2 separate regions of the Homo sapiens genome follow, and region 1 is linked to region 2. The links come from fine-mapping of genetic effects on gene expression. Tissue or cell type: prefrontal cortex. Region 2 holds a variant in brackets; the other region holds the start of a gene. All regions are shown on one strand. Distances are from middle to middle.

Region 1 (2,500 bases), 25 kb after region 2:
GGATGTGAGCCTGAAACCCACACACCTGGGAACTATGCCACGGAGGGGTCAGGACCTGCAGCCAGGCACAGCACCTGGACCCTCTTGCTGGACCCCCAGCCAGGCCCACACGCACCCCCTAGGCCCCCATGTTAGGTGGTGCACAGACTGTTCCCCTCAAGGACACAGAGAAGATTCAGGCCTTGATTCAGGTCAGAAGCAGAGGTCACCAAGACCTGCCATCGCTGCCACTCCCTCAGTCCCCCCACCTGCTCAAATCTCAAAAGGGATACTGTTCCCATTTCACAGACGCAGAAAGAGGCTGAGCGGCCAAGACAAGCGGCCACGGCTCCCTGGTAGGTGGGACGCACCCCTCCCCCTCCCCATCTCCCTTCTCAGGGGAGACAAAGCAGGTCCCTCCCTGCCACCGCCCACCAAGGTCAAGGGTGGGGGAGGGGCGTATGGTTTGGGTTTGTCTTGGGTGTGGGGTTCTTCCTTCTCGGGGCTTTTCTGAAATTTTGGGGCCAAAGCAGGTTTGGGTGTCAGATTCCCCAAAGAGCTCCCGGGAGGGTCGTTCTGTTCCGCCCCCCACCCCATGCTCTTTCAAACTCCCTGGGGCTTCCAGAGTCCTCGGCGCTCAAGTCTGAACCCAGGTTCCGGTTGCATGGAAGTTTTCCTTTAGGAAGAGGAAGCGGCCACTCGGGGTCAAGAGAGGGCAGCGAGCGAGCGGGCGGGGGCAAGCAGGGGGCTGCCTGGTGTGTGTGGGGGGGCGGGTCCAAAGTCGCATCCGGCTCAGCCCGCGAGCCCCGCCTCTCCCGCCCCGGCGGAGCCCCAGGAGGGTCGCGAAGTTGTTGCGGCTGCCGGGGCGGGGCTTGCGGGAAAAGCGAGGGGGAGGAGAAGCGCCCCGGGTTCCCGGCGCCTCCCCCGGGCTAATCCCCCCACCCGGCTCCCCCGAGCCCCGACTCACCTGTCCCCCGGCTCACCTGTCCCCCAGGCTCACCTGCGCCGCGGGGCGGAGGGACGGAGGGGCGGCGCGCTGGCGGTGCAGCTTCCAGCGCCGGGTCCTGTCCTGTCCTGCAGCCGCTTCGCTCCTGCGGCAGCGCGGTCCGGCCCGGGGCGCCTCCTCCGCTTCCTGCGCGGTCTGGCTGGAGGGCGGCGGCTGCGGCCCCGCAGGTGGGCGCTGGGCGGGCGGGGCTGCTCCGGGTCCGAGGGCCCGGGCGGGGAGGGCCGGGGAGGGGGCGGGGCGCGTCCCGGGCACCTGTGGCGGCGCCGCCTGCGTCACAGGTCACAGCCCCACCTGGGCCGGCTGGAGCCCACGTGATCGCCCGGACTGGATCGCGCCTCTCGATTCCCGCCGAGCCGCCGCCGCCCGGTGCCTGCGCCTTCCCTCCCCGCGCCCACGCCCCCTCGAGGCCGGCCCGGGAGTCGCCTGCCAGGCGTGGGGCCAGAGCGGCTCGGCTCCCTCCTGCGTCACTGTCCTTCCAGGCCCCGCTCCACTGCCTCCTCCAGGAAGCCTTCGGGGAAGGAGACCAGCCCTGCGGGGACCGATGTTTGCTGTAGAAAGGCCCGGCCCTCTGGATTCTTGGAAGCCAGGCGGCCAAAGACAGCCAAGAGGGCGCAAAGCACTCTGGCCACCTTTTTGGTGTGGTTGAGTCGCGGTCATCCCCATTTCACAGAGAAGGACCGAGTCCTGGAAAGGAAGGCGCTCGCCCTCGTGCACAAGGCTGAGCCTGGACTCCGAGCCTGGCCTTTCCTTGCTCCGCCTGCTGGGAACCCGTGTGAAAGTGAGGGAGGGCCCCGGGCAGAGGCTGCAGCAGCCCCCCAGCTGGGGGTTCAGGAATCAGGCCACCTGGTGCTGTGGGAGGGGCTGGGGGCTGAGCCAAGCCTCCCAAGCTTGGGCCTGGCCATTCAGGAATGTGACCTGAGGTCCCAGGGCTCAGACCCACTTCTGACCTGCCTCCATCATCCCCTTTTCAGGAAAGGCCTGTTGCCAAAGGCCTCCATGTGAACATCCACACTGGGCTTTGGGTCAGCTTCTACCAGCGTCCCCTCACTGACCCCAGGCCTTGGGGTCGTGGGCCGGGCACCGGTGTGCCAGCCAGAGGCACTGACCACCCTCCTCCCAGGACCTGCCTCCCTGGCCTGGGCGGCCGTGAGATCCCGTTGCGGGTTGAGGAGACACCACAGGCTCTGGGGCTGTCACTTGGCATTTTCTCAGGTGTCATAGGTAGAGGGGCGGCCTGCCCTGCCCCTCCTGCTCTGGTCGCCCCACCCACTAGTCCCCCAATGTCTGCCCTGTGGCTGGGGCTGCCTGGGTGTCAGGTGCCATCTGGGCAGGGCACAGGCTGGCCTCAGGGATGGGTCCCGTGGGCCATCCATCCCCTGGGAGGGAGGGTGGATGAGGGAGGAGCTAAGAGTTGACCCCTGTGGGCTGCAGCCTCCACCTGGAGCCGCCTGTGGGGAGGTTCCACTTCCAGGCAGCTCTTGGGAAAGGCAGGTGGCTGCTGCCCTCCTGAGTCCA
Region 2 (2,998 bases):
CAGCCACAGGCTCTTGGGAAGCCCCAGGGAACCATGCTGGGTCCTTGAGACCAGCTCCCCACGCTCTCTAGAGCCAGGCACGACCACTTGCTGATTGGAGACAGGCTGTGCTGCCGCCGGCTGGCCTCGCCAGGGCTACACGTCCGTCTCCACCCGCAGACGCTCCATCCTGCGGACATTGCCCTCCACGGCCACACGGCTGGTGATGAAGCGGGCAAAGTCCTCGGGGAACCATCCCGTCTCTCCGTCCCGGAGCCTCTCGCCATAGAGCCACCCTGAACCCGGATAGGGGTGGGAGGGAGGTGAGGGGAAGGCCGTGGGTCCCCCGGCCCCTCTGAGCTGCTATGCCTGAGCACACCAGGGCCAGGCTTCTCCTAGAACTGACCACCTGCTCCTGCTCAGAGCAGACAGCTGCTGAGGCCTTGCTCATGGTCACCGGGCACCCAGCCCCTGCTCAGGTGCTCGCCACTGAGAAGGGTGCTGGGCTGAGCACACCCCACACAGCGCTGCCCGGCATGAGGAGGAGCCCTGCCTGCCCTCTGCAGGCTCGTGCTGGGCCTGGCTGAGCGGGGATCCCCTGGGAGGGCAGAGACACCTCCTCCTCCCCACGTGGGACACAGTGACCATGAACCTGCTTTTGATTCTGAGGTTTGGGGATGTGGGAGTGCTCCCTTTGAGGAAGCCCTCGAGAGAGGGTGAGCACATGGTCAGCCTGCAGCCCGGCATGCTCTGGACCTGGCCAGGCTGGACGCTGACTCACGCCCGCCTGTCCGTTCCCACCCATCTGTGCCCAACGCCCCTGCACTCACCATCCTCCTGCTGCAGAACCAGGACCACGTCCGCCTGCTGCAGTGTGACCTCGTCTGCTTGCTTCGCGAAGAAGGCCTTGGTGATCTCCACCTGGGGCAGGTCTGCATAGGGCAGTGGCCATCACAGGGCTGTCGGGAGGCATGGGCCAGGCTCCACTCCCCAACGGCCTCCAGCAGACACATCCCCCGGGGCCGGGGCACCCCATCCCCCGACTGCCAGGCCCCAGCACAAGGCCAGGTGCCAGGCTCACTTGGGCTACAGTGGGGGCCAAAGTGCCAGCCACGGCAGAGGGCCAGCCCTGCAGGCCCCAGCCCGCACTCACCTCCTTTGCTGGAGAGGCCCTGCCACTGTCTCTCACTGTGTGTGAGCGCCACGATCCACCGTGCCCGGTCACTCCTGGGGACCAGAGACAGCATGAGCCAGGCCTGGAGACCGATCCTGCCCGTCTGATGTTCCTTGACTTCTGACAGCCACCCATGGGGGCCGTGGCAAGGAGATGGG[GGT/T]GGTGGGGGTGGGCAGGAGTGGCTGGGCAGACTGTGCCAGGCAGGCTAACCCCCAAGTCACCCCAGCCCCAGGTCACAGAGTTGGGTAGTGGCCACACACCCAGACCCCAGCCTGCTGGACCTGAGGCCACCCCGTTTCCTGGCACTGGGCCCCAGCTCCCTGCCCCCTCCGTTTGCTGTGACAGACTCAGCCTCAGCATCCTCATCTGGAAACGGCCCAGAGCTGTCCTCAGTCAAGACGAGCTGAGAGGGAATATGGAGACTGGCGCACCTGTGTGCCTGGCTTCCACGGGGGGCCCGCAGAGACTCCATCAGTGCCCCCTCCCATTCTGAGTGCCAGGACCACCCTGCTGTCTGAACTGGCCCCTACCGGCCAGGGTCGCTGCACCCCAGCATCACTGCTGTCCACCTGCAGCTGTGCCCTCGGGGCCTCAGGGCTCTCCTGCCTCGGGGCCTCTGCTGAGCAACCCCACACTCCGGCCCCACCTCCCTCTGCTCACATGGGCTAAGCTTTCCTCACGGCACCCCCCGCACCCCACCCCCCACCTCGTTTCCTCCCTTGTTCCCACTCCTGGTGGCCCAACTGTTGGTGCGTCCCCTCCCGGGAACATAAACTCCATGAGGACAAGGCCATTTCTGTTGTTTCTGGCTCTACCTCAGCACCTACAGCAGGGCCAGGTGCACGGTGGGCGTTCAGAGCCAGCCATGCAACAGCGAGCAAGGCAGGGGGACAACCCGGTCCCCATGGAGCTAATGTGCCTGTGGCCTGGGAACAGCCCTCCCGGGAGCCCACTTACGCGGAGTCCGAGGAGAGCAGGAGCTGCTCCTGGCGGCCCTCGCTGTTGCGAAGCAGGGTCACCTGGAAGGGGTGGGGCACGGAGGAGCTACGGTTGCCGCCCCCGGGCAGAGGGAGCTCAGACGGCTCTATCTTCTCCACCTGGATGTGGTTCATCTGGGCGTAGTCCTGGACCATGTAGCTCTCCTCGCTGTGGAGACACGGGCAGTCGGTGGGACGGTCCCACCCAGCTCCTACCCAGTGCTGCTGGGCTCCCGTCCAGGTCCCACCCGGCTCCCCTGCAGTGGTGGGGAGGCAGCCACGGACGGGCTCCAAGAGTTCCCGCGTCCCACAGAACAGAGGCCATGGCTTTCGAGTCCTCCTCGTGGCTATCACCGGCAGACCCAGGTCTGCAGAGGAGGTCAGAGGCTGCACAGCGAGCGCCACCTGCCCCCGAGTGTCACGTAGAGCATGTGCCGAGTGGAAGCCGCGCCTCGGCTCTGAGGTCAGAGGGGCTCAGGGCCAACTCCCTGTACCCTCCTGCCCCAGGGCCAGCGGTCCAGTGTCCATGGAGTGGGGCTCCCCACACCCTCCTGCCCTAAGGCCACCTCTTCTTCTTGGTCACAACCAGGACATCGTTGAACAGGAAAAGGTAGCACGTTGGCCGGCTGGCAATTTTTCGAAAAAGTCCGGTTTCTTCCACTAAGAACAGCTCTCCGCGCTTCAGCAGCCACCGGGAGGCAGAGATCAGTGGGAGGGACTGGGGGGACAGAGCCGGGAGGCGGAGATCAGTGCGAGGGACTGGGGGGGACAGAGCCGGGGTGAGCAGGTCCCCAGGGGGTCAAGGACGCATAGCACCAGGTGGGACTGACTCCTGCCTCTGGACTGGGTGACCAGCTGGCTGCCCTCA

Alleles and levels. Positions count from the first base shown, and alleles are read on the strand shown. Sizes are in standard deviations (SD) of each study's normalised expression.
For the expression in prefrontal cortex of the gene that starts at base 1,126 in region 1, T is the low allele of the variant in region 2 and GGT is the other (moderate effect, 0.43 SD a copy in BrainSeq).

The links. PIP is the estimated chance that this variant, and not a neighbour inherited with it, causes the effect.
Region 1: ARHGEF16 starts here. The variant in region 2 is fine-mapped to the expression of ARHGEF16 in prefrontal cortex (BrainSeq, PIP 0.95).

The regions. Positions count from the first base shown.
Region 1 is chr1:3,453,291-3,455,790 of GRCh38, reverse strand. ARHGEF16 (Rho guanine nucleotide exchange factor 16) reads right to left here and starts at 1,126. Exons shown (of 15, transcript NM_014448.4): 1 at 980-1,126. RefSeq lists an enhancer at 2,292-2,500.
Region 2 is chr1:3,477,725-3,480,722 of GRCh38, reverse strand. ARHGEF16 (Rho guanine nucleotide exchange factor 16) reads right to left here. Exons shown (of 15, transcript NM_014448.4): 11 at 2,697-2,848; 12 at 2,111-2,299; 13 at 1,133-1,206; 14 at 810-911; 15 at 1-275. The coding sequence ends at 136. Among named protein-coding and RNA genes, the nearest start is that of ARHGEF16, 25 kb to the right of the region's middle. The variant GGT/T (reference allele first, on the strand shown) is at 1,312.